2 linked regions of the Homo sapiens genome follow. The protein of the gene in region 1 purifies or fractionates together with the protein of each later gene. This does not show direct contact. Each region holds a gene or a part of one and is shown in the gene's direction. Other genes may lie near its edges.

What was found.
Region 2: the proteins of KMT2E (region 1) and TBL1XR1 purify together in Homo sapiens (affinity purification with mass spectrometry; 2 studies listed by BioGRID). This does not show direct contact.

Annotation. Positions count from the first base shown.
Region 1 is NC_000007.14:105,008,050-105,020,406, forward strand, and holds the start of KMT2E (inactive histone-lysine N-methyltransferase 2E), read left to right. Parts: upstream 1-6,155; 5' UTR 6,156-6,486; intron 6,487-12,357. UniProt on the Homo sapiens protein: Associates with chromatin regions downstream of transcriptional start sites of active genes and thus regulates gene transcription. Chromatin interaction is mediated via the binding to tri-methylated histone H3 at 'Lys-4' (H3K4me3).
Region 2 is NC_000003.12:177,047,483-177,059,382, reverse strand, and holds part of TBL1XR1 (F-box-like/WD repeat-containing protein TBL1XR1), read left to right. Parts: intron 1-5,464; coding exon 5,465-5,610; intron 5,611-7,656; coding exon 7,657-7,879; intron 7,880-8,772; coding exon 8,773-8,905; intron 8,906-9,244; coding exon 9,245-9,386; intron 9,387-11,459; exon of another isoform or gene 11,460-11,749; intron 11,750-11,833; coding exon 11,834-11,897; intron 11,898-11,900. UniProt on the Homo sapiens protein: F-box-like protein involved in the recruitment of the ubiquitin/19S proteasome complex to nuclear receptor-regulated transcription units. Plays an essential role in transcription activation mediated by nuclear receptors.

The DNA of each region.
Region 1 (12,357 bases):
ACAATAAAAGGTATTGCTTAGGATAGTTATGAATAATTTAAAAATTATTATAAAGCTAATCAGACTTAGGTTAAATATGTTATGCACTGGCGTATAATCTATCTTAAAAAACAAATGCAATCAGTTCCTTTTCCTTGGCCTAAAATGTAGACCGACCCAAGATCTCAGCTTTCTTGCTAAATTTGTCTCCTATTAAGACTGAATCTACCCTGTTTTGGCTTTTATCTGTGAAGACTATCAAATGTCAATTATTTTTCTTGAAAGTCAATTCCTTCTTCTTCCTTATACCCACCCAGGCAACAATTACGGATGTTTCTGTAATAACTTAGATTCCTTCTTTATCACTCCTGCTCTGATTCAGGCTCTTCTTGCTACATTGAGGGCTCTAAAAGCCAGTCTCTTCTGGGTTGAAGACAGGTATGTTTTAAAGTAAGTCTTTCTCTGTCCTGTGCCACACCTCATGCCTGTAATCTCAGCACTTTGGGAGGCCAAGATGGGCGGATCACCTGAGGTGGGGAGTTCGAGACCAGCCTGGCCAACATGGCGAAACCCCGAAATACAAAAATTAGCCAGGCGCGGTGACAAGCGTCTGTAATCCCAGCTACTGGGGAGGGTGATGCAGGAGAATCACTTGAACCCAGGAGGTGGAGGCTGCCGTGAGCCGAGATCGTGCCACTGCACTCCAGCCTGGGCAACTGTGCAAGACTCTGTCTCAATTAAAAAAAAAAAAAAAAAAAAAAAGGCCAAGTCATCCTTCAGACAGTGTAAGTAGGGCAAAGATTATGAACTCTGGTGAGGTCAGGGAGACAGATGTTAAAGTTAATGCTCTGCCACCTTGGGTAAGATTATATATAAAGTATATACAACAGCATCCAACAGTTCGGTGTATTACGAGAGCATTCTCTTTTGTGGGGAGGGAAGTCACACTAGCAGTTAAGGATTTCTCGTCTGGCCTTAAGTCAAGACTTTCCAATAATTCCCCTGTTCTCTCATTAATGTCACTAATGACCTGATGTGGCATTACCTTGCTAATTAAAAAAACAAAAATCCCAAACTCTTGTTATTCCTAAATCCTTACTTCCAACTGTTATTCTTACATCAAACTATACATAAAGAAATGGAAGTAGCATTAAAACTGAGCTAAGTTTAGGATGGGCACGGTGGCTCACGCCTATAATCCCAGCACTTTGGGAGGCTGAGGCAGGCAGATCACCTGAGGTCAGGAGTTCAAGACCAGCCCGGCCAACATGGTGAAACCCTGTCTCTACTAAAAATACAAAAATTAGCTGGGCGTGGTGGTGTGCGCCTGTAGTTCCAGCTACTCACGGACTGAAGCAGGAGAATCGCTTGAACCCAGGAGCCGGAGGCTGCAGTGAGCTGAGAACGTACCACTGCACTCCAGCCTGAGTGACAGAGCAAAGCTCCTTCTCAAAACCAAAAAACAAAACTGAGCTAAGCTTAAACTGGTAGAATGAAGTCTGGGAGAAAATAAATTAGTAAGTAAACATTTACTTGCTAAACAACTGTAAGGGAAAAACCAGGATATAGTTTTAAATTTGAGACAAATATTAATCGATATACTTTGAGAGGGGCACTTAAGAAATACTCTTTTCAGGATAAGAAATATTAAGGCGATATATTCTCTAAGAATAAGTTTCTACATAATCTAATCTAGTTTAGGCTTAAGTTGTATGAAGTACCGTTTGTATTAGGTTGATAACCAATTTAGTTTATTAGGAATGGTACTATATACAAGATATTTGCTGACTGAAAGCACGTTTGATACCTCAAAAGACAACGCTGACAACGCCGCTTTTGCAGTGTGCTTACAAAGGAACAAAAAACAAAACAAACCCCAAAGGCCATTTCTTTTTCAAATAAGAAATACAAATGCAGGATAAACTTCAGTGCTTGCAGCAAAACTAGGCATTAAAGAAAAATGCTATAAAATATATTTCCTTAAAAATATCCAGCTCAGTTTTTTTCTTCTTCCCACCTTTTTGGGGCAGAACTATCTCTGGGCCATCAGCAGTCTTCTGCCTTGCCTGGAGCCTCCCTAACCTTTCATCTCTTATCCAAATTGTTTATCAAAAGAGCTCCTTTAAAAGAGTTTAAAAGCCAGTATTTACAGTTTATAGACTGCACAGTTAATCTTATCAATCTCTAAAAAACCATGTATACCTGAATGCCCATCAAGTGTCAAGCACTAGGCTGGGTTATCAACATAAAGAATGACACATTTACTTGCGAGTAGGGATTTTGCAGTTTCAAGAGGCAAAGAAAAGGTTCAAATTGTATTATCCAGAAGTGAGAAAGACGCACTCCAGGTAGCAGGACAAAAGCACAAAGGTATGAAATGGCATAGCACTTTTGAGATGGTGTGCATTTTAATTTTAACACACCAGAAGATATGCTATGTGAACCTAGTAAGCTTACCGCAACTGCAATGTTCCAAAGTTAAGAGACAATAATTTCAACAAAAACAAGGAAAAGGAGGTTGGGGTGTAATTTACTCAAATAATCTTTGTGAGGGGATGGGGGAAGAAAATTCTTAAAAAACAAGTACCAAGCTTAGTATTTTTATTGAGCTCAGAAAGCCTGTGGTCCCCAGTAAACTTTTACATTGCCTACCTGTGGCACTGAAGCTGGCAGAGCTAAGATGGAGGTGAAAATTGGAGAGGTATTGGAACATAATAGGCCCAAATGAAATTGCCCAGGCAGAATATATGAATGTATGAAGGCAGTCAAAGAAAAGTAATTCCAAGTATGAACAGTATTTAAAATGCCATAGGAAAGTCAAGAAAAATTGAGAGCTCAAGAAGTTCGTGGATTTGGCAATCAGGAACAATGAAGGTACACGCTGATTAAAGGCACAAAACAAGGAAAGGGTGTTTCCATTCGCTTGGAAAATGGCCTTTTTTCCTTATTAAGGCACGGTGAAAGTAGAAACATTCTGAAAATTACCTTAAAATCTACTGACTTCATATTTAGTTCCCTTTTTAAGCAGGAATAAAAACTGCTATGAAGGAAGGGGAGACATCTTACACGTAACAAAGTAACCCTTGAAGACATTCAAGAGTTCTTAATGCTTACTTTCTATTCAGAGTGGACAAATTACATTCTTTGTACTAAATATTTATAGCTCATCCACATTCAGTTGCTTATAACTGAAAAAAGAAATCCACAAAAACTAGTGAGGATTTAAGGATACACAAATGAATTAAAAACCCAATCTTGTTTTCAAACTACCAAGAGCCTACAACTAAGACTTAAGGAAATAGCACAACCTTGACCTCAGGTTCTTTTCAGGTCCAGCAATCATTTTCTCGTAGCACCAAGTATAAGCGCTCTGCCAAGAAGTAGGCCAGATTTTGGCTGCAAATGTGTTTGTTGAATAACTCCCCACCCTCTACACCACCCAAAAGGAGAAGCCCTTTAAAAATTATTTGCTAGTTTTGACTACTTTAACTAGTTTGGCTAAGTGGGAAAAACGAAAAACAAACTTAGTCTACCTTAATGAATATGCCAAAATAGCCCCTAAAACTGCTGGATATTTTCTCCTATCGAGATTTCAAAAGCTAAAAGTATAGTTTGTACTACTATAAAAGTGCTTCAAATTTCATGATGATGCAGGAACCTTAAGGAATAATATTCACCGGAAGTGCTTATAATTGCATCTTTTATTTTTAAAAACTACAAAAGGGCAACAGAAAGAAAGCAGACTTGAAAGTACTGAAAAGTCTTACAACTTAATACAGTTTAAAACACGGCTTTTATTCCGTATTACTAATGCCCAGTGCAAAAAAAAAAAAAAAAAAAAAAAGCAGGCCCGGCGCGGTGGCTCATGCCTATAATCCCAGCACTTTGGGAAGCTGAGACGGGCGGATCTCGAGAGTTCGAGACCAGCCTGGTCAATGGGGTGAAACCCCGTCTCTACTAAAAATAGAAAAAATTAGCAGGGTGTGGTTGTGGGCGCCTGTAATCCCAGCTACCTGGGAGGCTGAGGCAGGAGACTCGCCTGAACCCGGGGAGGCGGAGGTTGCAGTGGGCCGAGATCTCGCCTCTGCACTCCAGCCTGGGCACAAAAGAGCGAATCCCACCGACAAAACTATATTCTTAAGGGATGTACAGACAGAAAACTGAAATAAAGAACAGGAATCACAGGAGGAAGGAAGAGTCTGAAAAGGGCCCTTAAATTCAGATGGCTGCTTATGCCTTTTCAAAGCAATTAAAGTGTTCCTGGGTGTTATTTACACCTTTAAATTTGTTTCCAAACTTTGGAAATACTTTTCTATTTCAATCTGAGAAACTGTTTCCTCAGAAAGTAATCGATCCTCCTTGACGTTGTACCCCCAGAAGCTGGTCTACCCCTCGCTAGGCCTCCCAGAGGCCCTCAAGGACTCCTAGTTGATTCCGAGTCCCACGTCAGGGAACTACCACCTTACATAAGTATACTTTGCGGGGAGAAAGGCAGATAAGAAAATAGGGCGCCAAACCTTCTCCACCAACAGCCGTCACACCCCACGAGGACTGTCCTGCGGGGGCTTTCCCCTGGGAGCCGCAGCTGTTCTGCCGTATGGGGGAGGGGAACGCTTTCCAACAGTCATCTCTTCCTCTTCAGGCCGCCAACGCCGACCGCACCACAGTCTCCTCCGCCCAAGCCCTGTCCCCTCCCCCGCCCCGGCCTGGGTCGGAGCCAAACCCCACAGGAATGCAGCCCGGTCACATGCGCTGCGGCGGTGGACGTGCCTCTCCCCCCGCGCCCCAAAGAGACCCAGCGCCATCTTGCCCTGACGCAGTTACAAAAGTCACGGGAGAAATCCTGTCTCCTCCTCCGCGCCAGCGCCCCAAAGTTTTGCAGAGGCCGAGCCGGGGCCCTCACCTCGCGCAGGGACAGTAGAAAATGGTCAGGGAAGAGCCTTGCGATTCCCTTCGCCACTGCTTGGGTTCCATATCGGCCGCGGCAGCAACGATCACCATCGTCACTTCTCCCTCTCTACCTTTGCAACAGCCTCCCCCTACGGCTTTGGCCCCACCCGCTGCTGCAGGATGAGGTCATCGCCAGCCAACCACGACGCGCCCGACAGGACACATCAGGCGCTGATTGGCTGCCGAGACCGCCTCTGCCTCTCCCCACTCCGCTTCCCCCAGCGCTCTGGGTCGCTGCGGGGCAAGGGGAAGACGGAAACCATTTCGGGGAAAGACCCCCAAAACAAGAGCCGGAATCGCCGTGTCATTTTAGTGGGGAAACCCTTCTTTTATTCTTTGGTCTCCCCCTTTTTTCTTCGAGATCACTGTCTGTCCCTCCCTCGTTTAATCACCGCCATATAAAGGAATTCCCACTCCCCTCCCCGCACATTGTCCCACCGGTGGGGAAATCCTTCCCCGAGGCCAAGAGAAGTATAGGAGGCAGCGACGGCAACTGCACCGACGGCAACGGCAGCTTTTTACCCCGAAGCACGGTGGCAGGGAGGCGGCGTTGACGGTGGCTGCATTTTTCCGGCTGCTTCTCCCCCCGACCTCTTCCGTTTCTTGCTCCTCCATCGAGACAGCACTAGACTCGCCAGCTCCGCTTTTATCCGGTGCCCGGAGCCTGCGCACTGGAGCCTCCTCAGCCCCTAGTGGGCGTCGAGTGACACCCCAACCGGGTTCACCCAGCGCTGGAGGCCAGACTGGGCTGGGGGAGGAGGGGGAGAGGAACGGGGAGACGGGACTGGGGTTGTTTGGGAGGGGGAGAAGGTGTATCGCTTTCGGAGGGTGACGGGAGGGAGTTCGTTCCCAAGCCCTGCTGTCCTTGTTCGTGCACCCAATACTGGCATGCCCAAGCTCACCTATATCCAGACTTGAGGGCCACTGGGGGAAAGGGGGAAAGAACCAGTCCCACCGAATACCGACACTTCCTCAAACCTTCGGTGGATTGTTGAATGCATCTGTTGTCAGAAAGACAGAGATTCCGTCCCCCTCACCGCCTCCAGTTTGCTATCTTCGAGCCTCCGCGGAGAGGCAACGGCGGGCGGCAGCCCACAAGCAAAATGGCGCCGGGCAGCTTCATCCCCTCCCCCTCTGCCCCTGCGGAGCGGGACGGGCGTACCCCGTGCACTTGCCGCCGCCGCCGCCGCCGCCGCGGCCGCCGCCGCCGCCGCCGCCATTTTCCCAGAGCGAGAGGCAGTGACACTGAGCGGGCGCAGGGGGCCGAGTCGGAGACCGTGCCGGAGTTCGGGAGCGGCAACAGAGTGGGCATAGACACTCCGAGCAGCCTCGCCGTCGTCTCTGCGTTCCTGTTGACTGCCTGGCTGCCCCCTCCCCTACTCCTCGGTTCCTGGTGAAGAGGCTGCGCGCTGCTGTTTGGGGAGGGGGTGTGTGGAGCCGGGTCCTGTGTCCGCAGTGGCTGCTGTCGGGGGGTCGCCTGTTCGCGGAGGTGCGGAGAGACTCCTTGGGGGTCGAGCACATAACGGGGTTCGGGTGTCTCGTGTGTGAACATCACAGGTTAGTGCCTGTCGTCTCCATGGGAGTTCCTGGGGCTTGCGGGGTTGGGGTACTTGTGTTTCAAGGGGGAGGGAGGTCTCTCATCTTTATCCTTAAGCTGGGGGAGCCGACGTTGACTCTCAGGTGTCTTTGCCGGCGCAAGACGTTGCTTGCTTAAATCGAATTTATTCTTTCTTCTCCCTGACCCTAGAAATGGAGCATTATGGCGGGTTTTAGGGTTGGGAAAGGGGTAACTGGCAGTTAAACCCCCTTGAGAGTGGGGGAGTTAGGGAGGGGGCGCACTCCTCATTGGCAGCGGGTTAAGGCCGCTTGAGTGAAGACGGAGGCTTGTGACTGTTAGTAGGGTTTGTGTCGAAGTGGTCCCAGGAGCTGCCAGCGCTCCCTTTTCTCAACCGCGTCTTGTTCAGGTGCTGAAAAGCCATATAGGCCCCATTTTCTTCTTCCATTTCTTGACGGGCAGTCTCTGGTATAATGTGCACATGAATACGAAGGGGGTAAGAAGAACGCCCTGGGCATCTCTCTTTGTGGGAGAGCGAGACAGCTAGCTCCTCATCCTCTCCTGGAGAGGGTAAACCCGCCCCTGAAGTGGTCACCCCAGTACCCAGCCTTCTCAGTCTCCTCCCCCACTCCTTTTGCATTACCGCCGTCCTTTACTGTGCCGGAGCCTTAGGATCTACAATATGGCTCATTTCAGAAAAGCTTATTTTGACCAAGGGATTGGCACAAATTCTATGGCAGCAGACACAGATGAGAAACAAACGGTTCACTGTGCTAAACGGGGTGGGGGTGAGAAAAAAACAATCCAGAGTGCTCTCTTCTACTGGCCTTAGTTCCGTATAGATCCGTCCTTGCTGGGCTCTGTCTTAAGAACGATACAATTTAAAGTCAAAGAGGAATCGCTAGAGTTAGCTCTAGAGTAAACCTCGTTTTGCCTATTTTGTTCCCTTTTTAGAGATGTGAATAAGGTAAGGTGTTTGGAGTTCTGGAGACCTTGGAGAGAATTAAGTGAGGTGCATTCAACTCGAGGCTGGAGACATGAATACCTATTTGGAAAATAGTCTGTTTTTTTCCTTCAATTTCTGAGATGGGGAGTAAAAACTGAAATTTCCCTCTTTTGTCCTTTACAGATTCTAAAAATGGCGGCCCCAGGCTGATGTTGTGGTAATCTAATCAGCTCGGGTCCTCCACACCCCATGCAGTGCGTTTGTCTGCAGCATATTACAGGCTTATTATGTTTACATGAAAAGACTGGGCTGTTTTTCCTTCCCCGAGCCAGTTACAAAAATGTGTTGATTTTTTACTGCAAATTACAGTGCTGTGTTTTAGCTGATTAATTTGATTCGTTTTTCCTGAAAGGCAAATAAAATGTCTCCACTTTTGAAAAAAAAAAACAGCCTTGCAAATTTCAGTGGTGATGATGGGTGCGCTTCAACATTAAAAAAAAATTATTTGGGTACCAATAATAGTTTTTGTTTGGTTTAATCCAACCATCTTTTATTCAATATGCCAAAGTAGATTAAAATGTTTAGTAACTGTATAAGTATCATCTATTTTATATGATTAAATGTTTCAATCTAGAGTAAGACATTTCCCAACCACCTCTTGACCCATTTTGTGGATTTTGGTTTTTGTATTGTGTTTTAGCTTAAATTTTAGGGAGCTGTACAAACAAGCTTAAACCTGTTACTTCATTGGGTGTAGAGATGCCATTATATTTTGCCATCCATTTTTCCCATGTATTTAAGCTTTCCTTAAGAATTTTCAAAGTTTATTGTGTATTTGGTAAAGTGAAGCTTCATGCTGCCTTTAACAATCGTCTTACAGCATACTATCATCATTATGTAAGTTAAAAGTAAGGCTCCGATTCTGGATTTTTTTCCTCTTCAAATATGCCCATTTACCTATTATAGGATTGTGGAATTTAGTCTGTTTTAATAGACCTTAAATAAAAACATTACCATAATAGGGTCTTGAATCCATTTTATGCTATTTTCAGAAACTTACAGACTGAGACTGAAAATTAAATGGTGTCAGGTGTCATTTAACTGAATTTTTTAAAGTGTGAAAGATTAGAATTCACTTTCGTAGTGGGAGTTCTTTTTGGGTTGAACTAAGCAGTGAGATGTGAGTGGGCCATTAATGACATTTAATGACCATTCTGATTGTGGAGCAACGGAAAGATGAGTGCTTTTCAATCCAGTAGTACTTTAAAAGGTTGAAGAGTATACACTGTTTCATGATTCTTTTATTCCATTGTAAATATTTTAGAGCAGCATTTACTTCATATGGTGACTGTATCAACTAGGTTGATAAGGTTCTAGCCTACGAAATAATTAGAGAAATAACTGGCTCAAGGATTTTCTACATACCAGTGAGCTTCATCATGGAAGACTGAGCACACAACCTTACTTAGAATATTTGAAATATTTTATTATAAAGTGAAATGTTGGTGGGTAGTGGGCGAAATTTGTGTAGGGTTTTGGGGTCAGTACTCATTTGTATTTTGATCTGAGCAAGTATTTAAGTCCAGATCATTCACTGCTGTGTAAAGATTGTGCATTTATTTTAAAGGCTGGGTGATTAAGGTCTGTGGTTCAGAAGCTTGGTACTTTAAACTTACTATTCAATATACAAAATCAGTGTATTCTTAAAAATTTGATTTATGTGGCCATAGGAGGGAACACTGCCTGTGCCCGATGGTTTTCTTCATAGAGACCTTGGTCAGGTCTAGACAGACAAAGCAATTGAACTTATTTGGCTTCAAATGAAAAATACCAAGTTAGAAATTATAGGAAAAGCTGTCTTCAGTTTACTAGCTTTCTTCATATTGGCTTGCTTTATTGCTTTAGGTTTTGTTTCTTTTTGGTGGTGGTGGTGGGTGGTTTTTTTTTGTTTTTTGTTTTTTTTTTTGATGTTTTAGTTCCTGTAAAATGATACTGGCTTTTTTTTTTTTTAAGTATTGTACCTTATTTTGAATGGTTACTTTATAAATCACGAGGCTATAATTGTTTGTTTTTTGTTAATTTACTATGTGTGTTTTAAGTTAGGATTGTCTAGGCAAATTTATTAGAAGGTTAGGCATAATTTTTGTTCCCAGAGAGTTTTGAAAGAATTTGGTTCCTTGGGGGAAACTAGTCAAATGGTCTTTGTTCTAGGATAGCTGAGTTTGAAGGATTAGTTGTTTATCTGTTTAAGTGGATTTGTAGAGAACTATAATGTAATTGGAGAGTTAATTTTATTTTTAGAGCCTACATTTTGATCATACATCCTTTCGTTGTCAGTGTAAATGAAAGGATCTCTCTGATTCCAGTTTAAGTGTAGAGCCTTGACAGGTCTCCATTTCCCGTCAACTCTGTAAGACTGATAACTGCCCTACAATTTTGGCTCGTCTGACTTCCTCACAGCTTCCAGAGAGAAATCATTGCCATATATGCCCCCAGTAAGCTCTAGGACTTCTTGAGTCTATTGAGGCAGTAGGGAGAAAAGCTAATTAATAGGAGAAAAATTTCCCCTCAGTACATATCTTAGTGGTCTTAGGGAAATTATAATTTCTTAAATTGGCTTCTTAATTTCCAAGAATAATGTACTCGTTTTCATTCATCAATCTTCTAAAGAAACCTGTGGTTTAATTTTTAAAGGTGTGTTTTATGTAAACCCTAACAGCTCTGCATTTCTGGAAGCTACTACTACTGGGACTTAAATGTGTACAACCATAGTGTGTTTAAAATGTGTAAAACTAACAGAACTTTGAAGAGCTATCAAAACTGGTTAGGAAATACTAGTATGCAGTTTTCTCAACAGATGCTATTTTATGTTTACTATTTTAAAAATATTTTAATAATGTGTAAAAGCTTTTATCTCCAAAGGATTTGTTTTTAGCAGATGGTAGGTGCTTAATTATTTCTTGGATGTGAATCTTTTATTGAAGCAAACACATTTACATCTCAAATATGTAGGGTGATCAGGGACTGTTCCCTGTTATGTGTTAGAATAAATGTTAAATACTTGTATTCTGTGAGACTTGTTTCCCCCAATTTCATGATAGATTATCTATGAGACTTTTTAATATTGAAAATATAATTATTTTATGGTAAAATTAATTTTTATGTTGACTGGCAAATTAACGAGTGGAATACTATTTGAAATATTACTCTGTGAATGTTACTGGCTTTTAGGCTGGGTTTAAAATTGAAGTGGCTCGTATTTACTACCTGTTCTGTAATGTGCAGATGTTGGGAGGAGCCTTATTTTTTTCTTGACATTGAAAGAATAATTTTTTGTATTACCTACAAATTTACTTAACATGGAGGAACAGTATTTGTTGTTGAAATTGTTTTCTACACTAAACTGGAAGTGGATGGTATTTAACTAAAAATCTTGCAATTGCTATTAAACAATGAGTATTTTGCATTATATAAAATAAACAGTATTTTACTTTGTATAATATAAAATGAGTATTTTACTTTATATAAAATACTCTGTTTAATAGCAATTGCAATATTTTTAATAGCAATTGCAAGAGATAAGAATTAACCATATTATGATGCAAACAAATTGTTTTTTTGTTATTGTGAACTTCCATGCTAAGTGCTACATTAAAAATCAAATGAAGGTGACCCAGAGTAAGTTAATTAGATTTTAATTCATATCTTTAAGGATAAAAGAAGTTTTTATTAACCATTGGTAACTAGGATGCTTTTTACTTAAATCAGAGTCAGGAAAAGCAGTTGGTCTTATATTTCACGAGATAACATGTTTTCACTTGATATGAAATCAGTTCTTTTTTTCCCTCATGAACAGCTCATAATTGGATTTTATTTTTGGACAGAAAAACTTTTTTTATTGTTAGGTGAATTTTACAGTTTTATTGGAAATCTCGTTTGGTTATTTACCAAAACTATTTAAGCTTTTTGGGATGTTGGACATTTTCAATGCAACAGGTCAACAAAGAATTCTTTTTTGATGTGTTGCATTAAGATGCCATCAAAACAGACACTACGTCTTTTAATGAGTAAATAATTAACCTATAATATGTGTAAACTACTTGTTCATCATTTTTAATTAAAATATTTTGTATTTCAAAACTGTTTCAAATATGAAATCTGGGTTTAGAAAGGATCTGCATGCAGGTCAACGTGATAAGCAATGATCTATGTAGCTTTATTTTTACGACAATTGGACAGAGGTAATTTCTTAGCACCTCTTAGGCTGCTTAATTTAGAGTTAATCCAAAGGAAGAAACATTCCTTCAGAAGACTAGGACATATCAGATATTAATTATTAAAAATAGGCTGGGCACGGTGGCTCATACCTGTAATTTCACTACTTTGGGAGGCCGAGGCAGGCGGATCATTTGAGGTCAGGAGTTTGAGACCAGTCTGGCCAACATGGTGAAACCCCATTTCTACTAAAAATTACAAAAATTAGCCGGGCGTGGTGGCAGGTGCCTGCAATCCTACCTACTCAGGAGGGCGAGGCAGGAGAATTGCTTGAACCCAGGAGGCGGAGGTTGCAGTGAGCCGAGATTGTGCCACTGTACTTCAGCCTGGGCGATAGAGTGAGACTCTGTCTCAAAAAAAAAAAAAAAGTAAATAAGTAAATTAAAAAAAAAAATTCTTGGTCCTGAATTTTAATATTGAGAAAGATGATATTGTGTAATCACACCTGTGTAATAGCCAACTTGGTTGCAGCATTTAAGGTCATGCCTGTCTAGCATACGATAGTGGATTGAGTTAGTTTTGGTTTGTGGTACTTACAACTTTAAAGTTCACTTGGCCTGGCATGGTGGCTCACGCTTGTAATCCCAGCACTTTGGGAGGCTGAGGCAGGTGGATCACCTGAGCTCAGGAGTTCAAGACCAGCCTGGCCAAC
Region 2 (11,900 bases), on another chromosome or scaffold:
ATATAGCTCATTCATTCATTTTTTTGTTTCATTGTAGCAGTTTCACATTAGGTCTGTAATGGCTAATGAATATTACAGTGCAGTTTCTTTGTTGACTCAGATAAAGGTAACTGGGCCATTCCTTCCTATGTACCTTATGCCCAGTGCCATTTATGAACAGACATTACCAGTGTATTCGATGGAGTCAGGTTGAAGTGGTTATCAGTAATGTGCTTCTAGTCATGAAGAACTGCAGTGAAGAGAGCTCAGCGTCTGGTATGTCCGCCTTCAGTCTGCCTTTTAGTTTTTATCAGTAGATGACCAGCTACAGAAGTGCAAGTAGGTATATAGTTTTGTTTTATAATCAAATGAAATACAGAATAACCTTGATTTTACACACATGGTTGTATCCATGACTAATTGACAATAAACAGCAAGCAGTTGTCATAAATGCTGATAATTACAATTCTTTTTTTTTCCCAAATAAGTTTTTCTCCTCTTTTTGTAAGCTGAATTACCATTTTTTGCTGACACAGGAAATTCGTATTACACATTCCTGCTAGCACACTTATCAAAGGGACAATGGTCCTTTAATAGTTGCCAAACAGAGAATTTGTTCAATGTTTTTTAGGACTAGCCAGCATAGCGAGAGTATAAGGAAACATGGAAATTGCTTTTGGCATTATTAATAATCTTTTTGGAAAGCAATTTGGCAATGATGAAAACCTTCTTTAAAATGCTTATATCCCCTTCAGCTTTTGAGGGAATCCATCCTAAGGAGAAAAAAACAACACACATTGTACATGGCAAAAGCCTATACATATAGATATTTGAGGTAATATTCTTTTAAAATAGTGATCATTGGAAAAGTTCGAAGGTCCAGCTATGGCGTGAATAATTTACTGGCTGAATATTATGATGCTATTAAAATTATTTCAGAAAGTATTATTTATATAAAATGTTCATAGTTACATGTATTTTTAAGGGCAAAATTAGGGCACGAAATTTTATAGCTAGTGTATCAGTACTAGATCTAGCTCTTCAATAACAAAGATCCCCTGTGTCATTTTTTCCCCATCCTATTTACCTTTTCTAAAATCTGGATCTGTAGGGCAGAGTTGGAGTCAAGAAAGCATTTGATGATGAGAACATGAGTATAATTTGCTGAGCTTTTCTGACTTGAAGCTTATATAGGACCTTGGATCAATCAGATTTTCGTTTCAGACTAGGGCAGTATGTTGTGGTCATATTTAAGCTTTGCCTTTTTTACCAGTTTGTCTCATCTAGTCATCCTGTACCATAATCATGGTGTTCAGAGTCCATTTTCTTATTCTTGTATTGCCTATTTGCAAGGTAGAGTTGGCAGGCTCTGTATGACTAACTCCCCTTTGAGAACACAGTCCCTAACATCCTTACAGAAAGCACTTCCTGAAACAAGCGATCTATAGAAAATGGCTGTTTTGTGATCTTCATGCGTGCCACCCCACTCCCTGCCAGCTGTCGTTGCTCGTCTCTGTCACTGAATGACTATATACTTCATGTGTTTCAGTCTTATTTCTTTCTGGAGTCTCTCTTCTCCCTGAGTCTCAATACCCTAGTCAGTGTTTAGAGTACTTGATTACAGAGGTACTATCAGATTTGCTCTTACACTTGGAAAGAAGGGATGCTATTTTAGATGGTCATGCCGGATTTTAACATCTAACAGATTTAGGTGGTCTCTTTTGCCTCCTATTATATAAATCAAAAGCTGTCCCTGGAAAAAGCCTTTTTCTGCATATATATATTTACAGATAAATGGAAATAGCTTCTGGCACAAAACTAGTTCAAGTTTTAGATTTTTCCAAGGAAGACTTAAGTCATATGCTTTTTCTGGAGTCACAGATTTTTTTGATGTGCCAAAATACATTATAGTATAATTGCATTCTAATTTAAAAAATGTTTATTGAGTACTTGTTGACTCAGGTAATGTGCTAGTTTCCCAGAATTAAAGGATTACTAGACTTAAACCCTTTTGTCAGGATCCCAGTCTAGTAGTCACACACAGGCAAACAACCATAGCCACACAGTTGATAACCAGTGTGGTAAGTGCCACACATACAGAAATTCTAGGATCAGCGTAGGAGAGACTGGTTAGCCCTGGTGTAGTGAAAGAGGATTTCACCTCCATTCAGATAGGAGAAAGAGCAAAGGAGGACATAAGGCTCAGAGGCATGATGTATAACACAGCATATTCAAGATGTTAGATGTAATTTGCCACCACTTGAATTTATTGTGTAATGGGAGTGAGACGGGGTGTGTAGTATTGAGATGAGACTGGAGAGACAGAAGAGCCAGATTACAGAAACAACTGTGTGCCATAATTAGGCGTTTGACCTTTGTTATGAAGGCCAAGGGGATCATTGAAAATTCTCAAGCAAGAAGTGATATGTTCAGTTTTTTGTTTTACAAGTAATAGTCTAGCTGTAGCTTGGCATATATACTGAATTGAGGAGGAGGGGAAAGAAATGTGTATAGCAAAGGGTAATGGGGACTAAACGCAGATCTGGCAGAAAAGGTAAGGTGATGAGCATCTACAGATGGTAGAGTGGTAGGATTTGGAGTAGGATGGTAGGATTTGGTAAATTGTCAAATGCCAAGGGACCGAGAGAGAAGAGGGAGTTAGGATGACTATGACTTTCAGGTGTAGTGAAATGAGATCAGAAGTTTCTAAGGAAAAGTAGTTTTAGGGAGGGGAAGAAGAAAATTGATTTTGAACATAGTAATTTTAAACTGCTATGTAATGCCATGGCTAGAAATAAAGAAAATATTCTAGTTGAATTCAACATTTAAGCAGAGCATTTAAGTTTGGAACTTCTCTAGGGTAAACATTAGTGAGAAGTGCCAAAACAATGCTAATGACTACTTCAGGGATGTTTCATTGCTATTTGAGAGCATCCTAAGTACATCTGCAGTACCTTGAGATGCATGTAAGCACCTGTGATAGTTTTTCTCCTGGTCTGACAGAACAAATTCAGGATATCTGCAACATTCCAGCCAGAAATTGGCACAGTTCCACCTGCAAGTCTTAGACTATTCTTGGACATATTATTACTTTAAACTTAAACTCTATAAGCTAATTAAATAGGGTCCAAATTTAACAATTTTGACTATTTAAATTGCAGTCATGAATAAAGTATACAGAAATCATGTACTTCAAACAAATTTATAAGCATTACATAAGTCAAGACACTTTCAAAACCTTGGCAGTAAATATGGCAATAAGATGGCTCAGTGTTTCATGCACTGTGCAACCACTTTCCAGGACCCTGAGATGAAAACAAAACAGTGATGTAGTCTTTTACTTTCTATCAGGAAACAGGAGCTCACTCTCTCCCTTAGCTTTATCCTTGACCATATTTTAACTGTTCAAGAGGAGTAGTAGAGTCTCTGAATGAATTTGAATCTGTACTTTCTCATTTATTAGTTGTGATTTTCCATTAGATTATAAAATAATAAAATTATATGTGTGTACACAGTATCTAGCATATGGTATAGGCCCTCTGTAAATGATGTCTTCTGTCTTGAAGTTTTCTTAAATCTCTTAAGCTGCTTGGCGTTTGGCTGTTTTTACTATGGATGATTTACTGTGAATTTATTCAGGGAGGGGTTATATAATTGAAAACAGGAATCTCCAACCTCACTGCTTAAGGATTTTACTGCTATGTCTCTCATTGTTTCTCCCCATCCTCCCTCATCCTTATTCTGTTTTCTGCCTTGGTGATCTGGAATCTACTCATATTCAGATAGTTGTGGGCTTCCTGATAGGGACAATTCAAAACGGTGCTTCTCCGCCCCCACCCCCCCACCCCCGCCCCGCCCCCCGATTGGTATCTCTGTGAGCCCAGATTAAGGTGAAAACTATGAAAACTATAAATGCATTTAATTATGATCTTGCTTATGGGCAAAATCAGGGGCTAAAATCAAGGTTTTAGAGGTAACATTTTTCCACTTGCCTTTTCCACTGTGGGTTAGATGTTGTGAGCATAATGAGTTAGGTGTTCCAAAGAGAGAAGGAAGGGGTTACAAGGAAAATCAACTTAGGTGTACTCTGACTATCAAATAACCAAATTTTCCTAGCCACATGCTAGGAAATTGTGAGCCCACAGTATTTTCTACTAGACTGTTTATAAGTACCACAAGGAGTATAAGAGTGGAAGCACAAAATCCAAAAAAGACATTACTAAACACTAAAAAACTAGGCTAGACAGGCTAGCCAACAGACATACTATATAGATTAAATCAGTTTAACCAAGACCCAAAATAAGCCTGTATTTATTTCCTTTGTTTAGTATAAATGTTTATTAATATTCTATATTACTTGTACAATTTAATTGAATTGTTTAAAATACTTCATAGAAATTACTACTTAATGATAAATGGTGATTAATATTTCAGTAAAGAAAATAACCACCCTTGGTTTATCAGCTTCTTAGAATTTTACCTTTGAATTTTGACTAGATATTAATAAAAAGCAAGGCCAACATAAAGAGATTTTTATTAAGTAAGTGCTTTGGTTTTAAGTATTTCAAGTTAAGAGTAAGTAATTGCTGATGGAGACCTATAAACCAGGTAATCATTTGCTAGCTGTTCATTTCTTAAATATTTCATATAGATGAGTTATTACTAAGTGGCAAAGAATTGGTATTTTTAAAGCACTTAATTCATACATAAAATGAGATTTAACCGTTATGATTTTTTAATATTTGAATTTATTTTTATTATTTTAGTTTTCCTAAGTAGTTCCAAAGAGCTCCAAAATACTGAATTTATCAGATGTTTGACAATTTATATGTAGAAATTTAAATACTTCAGATTTTACCTGAGTGCTAGATTGCTTTACAGACATTATTGAATTATAACTACGTAGTAGATAACAATTACATGAAGTAAATGAAGATCATTCAGAATGAATGAATTCCTATTTAAAGCATATTATGTGTACCACTTTTGAGAGATGCTGAATACTTGAACTGGGCTGGGATGAAAGAAAATTTGAAATAAAGTTCCTTAATTCTAGATGTAAAAAATATTAAAATATAATACAGAAATATTAAATGTCCCTTAATCTGTCTTGGCCTGATTTAAATGAAGCAATTTAATTATATGATTTCCAAAGACTTGTTTTACCTTTTACATTTGATGCTTTTTGTTAAGAAAAGTTGTGTACCATGACATTTTAGAAAATTTGAAGCTATATAATCAAGTATTTACTAGAAATTTTAAAGAGTACATTAAGAGAAAAAGAAAGTATGTAAAGGCTGACATGTTTACATGCACACACACGCGCGCGCACACACACACACACACACACACACACACGACCTTCGTCTGGGATTTTAAATGGGTAGGATGGGATTTGAAAAGATGATGGTGATCTTTCTTTCTGTGTCATTTAGCATGTTGCCACTAGGAAAATAAATTCTCATGCCTTTTCTTTTGTTTTTAGGATTTTCTCATTCAGCATTTACCTTTGGTATAGAAAGCCATATCAGTCAGTCCAATATAAATGGTGCCCTCGTCCCACCCGCTGCATTGATTTCTATCATCCAGAAAGGTCTACAGTATGTAGAAGCAGAAGTTAGTATTAATGAGGTAAGGAAGACTTATTTCAAATACTGATTTTTTTCATCTTAAATATGCCGTTAAGTCAGCTGTCTTGCTTGCTTATTCAGTATTCTGACTTTAGCTTCACAGGGTTAACAAAAGTGCAGGCAGTTCATCCCTAATGTGGTAGTCAGGTTGCACCGGCAAGGTGTTGGCGCCTAGTTGTAAGGACCATTATCTGTAGTTTGTTTGCCTTAATCTGTTTGTGTAAGTAAACACTAATAAAGAATTTTTATTAACACAACAGCATTGTGCTGTGGAATGCTAAGATCATAATTATTGGCCTGAAAATTGTAAATTCTCACGTTATTTGAATATACCCAAATTTAAACCAGTTTGTAATTGAAGCCAACTCTGGATGGTACTGCCTATCTAAGGACTACATGTGAGTAGTTTGTTTGGCTTAGGGGTCAGCATACTGTGGCCCATTAGCCAAATGCTCCTCCCTGTTTTTCTCAATAAAGTTTGATTGGAACATAGCCACATGCATTTACATATTGTCCATGGCTACTTATGGCATAATAGTAGTTGAGACAGAGACCTTATGGCCTGCAGAGCCTAAATTAATATTTACTGTCTACTCTTTTACAGAAAAAGGTTGTAAACCCCGGTCTAGTTTAAAATGTTGTTTTTGTTTTTTGTTTTGTTTTGTTTTGTGTGTGACGGAATCTCGCTCTGTTGCCCAGGCTGGAGTGTGGTGGCACAATCTCAGCTCACTGCAACCTCCGCCTCCTGGGTTCAAGCGATTGTCCTGCCTCTGCCTCCTTAGCAGCTGGGATTATAGGCACCCACCACCATGCCCAGCTAATTTTTGAATTTTTGTAGAGACAGGGTTTCCCCATGTTGGCCAGGCTGGTCTTGACTCCTGACCTCAGGTAATCTGCCCACCTCGGCCTCCCAAAGTGCTGGAATTACAGGCATGAGCCACCACGCCCAGCCTAGTTTAAAATTTTTATCTATAGTGAGGAGCTTTTCCCATTACTTCTATTTCAGAGATTAACATGTTCCCCTTTTGCGAGTATTTTTAAACTGAAGTATCTATGATTTCTGTATCAATGATTATTACTAGAATTAGAAATTACATAATATACTAAAATGGATTTGTTTGTTTCCTCAGCTCTTTGAGTGACCATCCAGTAACGCAAAACTAAATTTTTTCTTAAAATGTGTGTAAATTTGACATGGCGCTTATTCCACAGTGTATCTGTGTTGGGTTTAGTATCTTAAAAATTATTTATAAGTTAAAATACTTTCTCCTGTTCCTGAAATATTACATTACAATGGACAGTTTAGAAAGACAGGCTGTGTTTTTGCAGCTCACAGTACCCTGCAATAACACTGTAGATTGTCACTGGTACATGTTTACCAGTTTAAGTGAACCAGACTTCACATATGCATGTTCCCAGCTAATTTGTACTGTTTGTATTTCTGACTTGTTCTGTGTTTGTGTCTCTTCTTGTGCTTACTTGGAGAACTCTTTATTAGGAACTTCCTAATATCAATAAGTAGAGCTTTGGAAATTTTAATAACTCCCTAATATTCAAGAGCACTATAGCCCCATGAAGTCTGTTTCTGCTTTAATATTTGAATCAAATCACAAGAAACTCTTCAGCTCAAAGTTTTTAGTTTTTTAAAAGATGTATTTACTATAATGGGGCACCAGGCCTCTGATCATTATATGAACTATATTCCATATTGTTTGTTGCTTTGACTAACAGAATTTCAGAATCTAATTAATAAGCCTTTTTATCAGCTCGGCCTACATCTTATTATCTCTTTCATTTCAGCTCTATCTGTACAGCTCTATACTGTAATAATAGTATGAATTAAATGAAAAGGAAAATGTAAGCAGTCATTTCCAGTTGCTGCTTGTAGTTTCTTTATTCCCTCCGGACTTCTTATATGAATTCAGAAAGTTCCTAAAAATGTTTTTTTAGGAACGAAGATTTTCATTTCATTTCTGATTTTGTATAAATACAAATAACTTTAAATATTGCCTTTGATTTTTCTTCTCTCACAATTTTCCAAATCCAGGATGGTACCTTGTTTGATGGTCGACCAATAGAGTCTCTGTCCCTGATAGATGCCGTAATGCCTGATGTAGTACAAACAAGACAACAAGCTTATAGAGATAAGCTTGCACAGCAACAGGCAGCAGCTGCTGCAGCTGCCGCAGCTGCAGCCAGCCAACAAGGATCTGCAAAAAATGGAGAAAACACAGCAAATGGGGAGGAGAATGGAGCACATACTATAGCAAGTGAGCTCAGACAAGAATTTTTTTTTAATTACATGGTTTATTTATTTATTTTTTTAAACTTTTAATTCGGGGTACATGTGCAGGTTTGTTATATAGATGAACTCATATCACAGGGGTTTGTTGTACAGACTATTTCATCACCCAGGTACTAAGCCTAGTGCCCAATAGTTATTTTTTCTGATCCTCCTCTTCCTCCCACCCTCCACCCCCCAGGAAGGTCCCAGGAGACAAGAATTTTTAAAAATTTTTTCTCAGAAGAAATGCCCCATCTTCTATGCTGAAATAATTTCATCTGTTAACTTGCACCAACTTGTTTCCCTAACTTGTATCACACAGTTCAATTCAGATTTTTATTCCTAAAGCTCCAAAAAGCTAGATTTACTTTTATTTTCTTTTTAAAATATCTAGAAACCCTTTTCCCATTGTTAAATGAATTTTTACATCTACATTTGATTTCTAAATAAAATTTGTAATACTAGTTATCAACAAATAACCATAGAGCTCTGACATCGAGATAAAAGGCAACTCATGTTATATGAATGATATCAGCAACCCCTACTGGCAGAAACTCAGAATAGTACTGATAGACATTATATTTAATTCAAACCATTTTATCGTTTTATCCATGTTTAGGTCTAATCATTTAAAGTCTCCCATCCCACTCCCACCCCCACCCCTCTAAAAAAAAAGTATGTGGTCAATACTTAATTAAAGATAAGAATTTATTTTCTGTGTGACTAAGACTGTGTAGTCATGTTCAGCTTAACTGGATATAATTGAAAAATGTTACACTGTGTGCGATAAAGGAAGGTATTTGCTAGTTAAGAAATCACCCATCCACCATGTTGTAATACTGCCTAACTGGAAATGCTTACTTGTGTTTCACGATGCAGATAATCATACTGATATGATGGAAGTGGATGGGGATGTTGAAATCCCTCCTAATAAAGCTGTTGTGTTGCGGGGCCATGAATCTGAAGTTTTTATCTGTGCCTGGAACCCTGTTAGTGATCTCCTAGCATCAGGGTATGTTTCTCAAAGTGATACTAAAATGACTTAAAAATATCTTATTGAACATTTTATAAACATATGCATTATTCAGGTTTTCTGTTGTTGCTTAGTTGTGGCCATTTTGTCTCTGTAAATTTTTTATTCCTTCATGAAGTAATTGTAGAATTTTTAATTAAACTTACTATTTCGAGAATGCTTGGGGGTCCCAACGTGTAGAATGGGAAAAATACTGGAAATGAAAATTCGTGATAGTCGTTTTTATTTGCCTTATTAATATTCAGATGTAAATATGTTGCCTTGTTCTGATACGTGAGAATGTCATGAGGATCTAAAATATATTGCATACTTTTATAGGTCTGGAGACTCAACAGCAAGAATATGGAATCTTAGTGAGAACAGCACCAGTGGCTCTACACAGTTAGTACTTAGACATTGTATACGAGAAGGAGGGCAAGATGTTCCAAGCAACAAGGATGTCACATCTCTAGATTGGAATGTGAGTATCACTATATCCATGATGGATATAATTACTAGTATACCTAACCCTCAGAGCCTCATACTCACGGCAGGGTTTGTCTATTTGTTCAGAATTTGGGGTTTTATTAACTAGTAACAACAAACCGGGAGTCGTCCCCTGCCAGCCCTCTCCCCCACTGTGGGACACAGACTTGCCTTAGTCAGACCAAGGTTCAACATCCAGCTCTTCAGTGTATCCCACAGCATATCCTTGGTTAAATTGTTACTTTTTACTCTGTACTTCATTTTCTTTAAATGTCAAGTAGAAGTGTGAAAATGGTACCTAAATATTTGAGATAATAGGTGAAAATTCTTACCATAATAACAAACAACATACTAAATCTATAACAACCGAGTCCTTAGGGGATAAAAGAATTCTGTGTAGCAAAAAACATGTTCTTGTTTTTCTCTGTATTCTGTGAACTGGTAGAACTTTATTACCAATTTCCTTTTAGGGATCATTAGTCTAGACAACGTCTGAATTTTATTCCCACTGTAGGAATCTTGTAATTCTCTGATTCTGTGTATGATTCAACATCTTTCAGGACAACTTGACTACTGTGACTTACAAAAAACTTTGACTTCGTTGTTGATAAATTCTCACCATTATAGTTTTAAATACATCTCTTACCTCGCTCCGCTACCCCCTGCCCCTCCCCCAAAACTCTTAGATTATTTCAGCATTGCAAAGAATATCAAGATAGTTGTTCTTTGCTCAGCAAATGAATGTTCTTTTCTCTTCTGTTTAACAACCCTTTGTGGACTTTCTAAAGGATCTTCCAATTCTTTTCCCCGGGAATGAGATCTATCTTTAAAATGATTATCCCCACTAAAGTTCTCAGTTTCTGTGAAATGTTTTTTCAGAAATCATAGCTAGGTATTTTTAGCATTTTCTTCCAAAATTGCCAGCAGCATATTTACTCTTCCCCTCCATATGACAATTCTAAAAATTCCAAAGGGGTTTAGCACATTGTAGTATTATTTACTTGTAAGATCAAGACAGAATTATTTTCTTAATATGGGCCCTTATTATATTTTAGTTCAGATATCTTACAGCTTTCTTACGCTACCTGGTCCACTGGCCATGTTAATGAAATTTATAGTTTACACTGAAAAGGATGGTTAATGAATATTGGTTTGTTGAGCTTGGTAGTTCTGAACTGCATTTTATAGTTTTGAAAAGTGTGGGCTTTTAAAAAATGTGTTATTCACGGTGAACTTGGAAAACATTATCCTCGATTAATGATTCTTTTCCATGGCTAAAGCAAGAGAGCCTGTGAGATTTCTCATCTTTACAGTATTTTCCTAGTTGAGCAGTTCATGAACTAAAACATTTAGGGACTGATAGTTTAGAGGAAACTTGACATTGTGTAGGATGTGGAAATAAGCTTTTACTGTTGACTTCAACATGGCTCCCCTTCTTCTTGAGACAGAGCCCTAAGGGATGGCCACATCCCAGCAGAATTGAGTCTGCAGTTCCCAGAACCAGCATTTGTTTTTGTTTGTCACTTAGCCATACTGCTAAATGGCTTGAGAGATGTGAAATAGGTGATCTTGTTTTGAATGCCCTTACCAAAAACCATCAATAATATGTCAAGTAATGCAGGATTTCATTCTCCAGTAATGTTTACTGATTCTAGCAATAGTCTGTTTACTATAATCTGTAACTTCTGTGTTTGCATAGAGTAGGTTAGATCTGTCCTTTTATTACACAATTCATCGAGGCAAGGTGCACAGCAAGGGAATATAAGTTGAGAGAAATTTATATGGACTTTTCCTCCTGGTAAAGTAGGCAGTTGTACTTACTTCATTAACTATAAAGTCAGCCTGTGCTCTTTTCTGGCTCTTTTCCTTGTTGATCTTTTTATTGGCAAATATTTCATAGTGGGAAGGGATTAATAATAGAAAGGAACATTCAAGTATTTAAGAATCTGATCATTCGAAACAATGATATTGTTTGGATCATACCCACACACTTCGTTTTAGACAGTAAAGGATTTAGAGGAATGGCCATATAAAACCTTCTAATCATATTTTAAAGTTTTTCTTTTTTACTTCTAATAAATCATTGTAAGACTATGAATTTGATGTTCTTCCCAGTCCACCACTCTACCTTCATTCTTAGTTGTGTGAGTCTGTGAGAATACTTTTGGCATGCATGAGGTGGGGTGATGTAGATCCTGGTCCAGAGCAATCACTGTCAGTTGTTGAACTTTGGATATAAGGCCCCCATACAACATTAGTGTCACACAGTGGAAGGGTTTCATAGGCCTTTAGTGGCACTCACAAGTAGGCAAAACTGACAAGTTTTGAAGCAGAGAATGTCTTCATTCTCTTCTGTACCTGGGATTTAAACATGAAATACTTTAACAACAATTAAATACCGTATCTAGATTATATAATTAAAGAAATGTTTTTCTCTGGCAGAGTGAAGGTACACTTCTAGCAACTGGTTCCTATGATGGGTTTGCCAGAATATGGACTAAAGATGGTA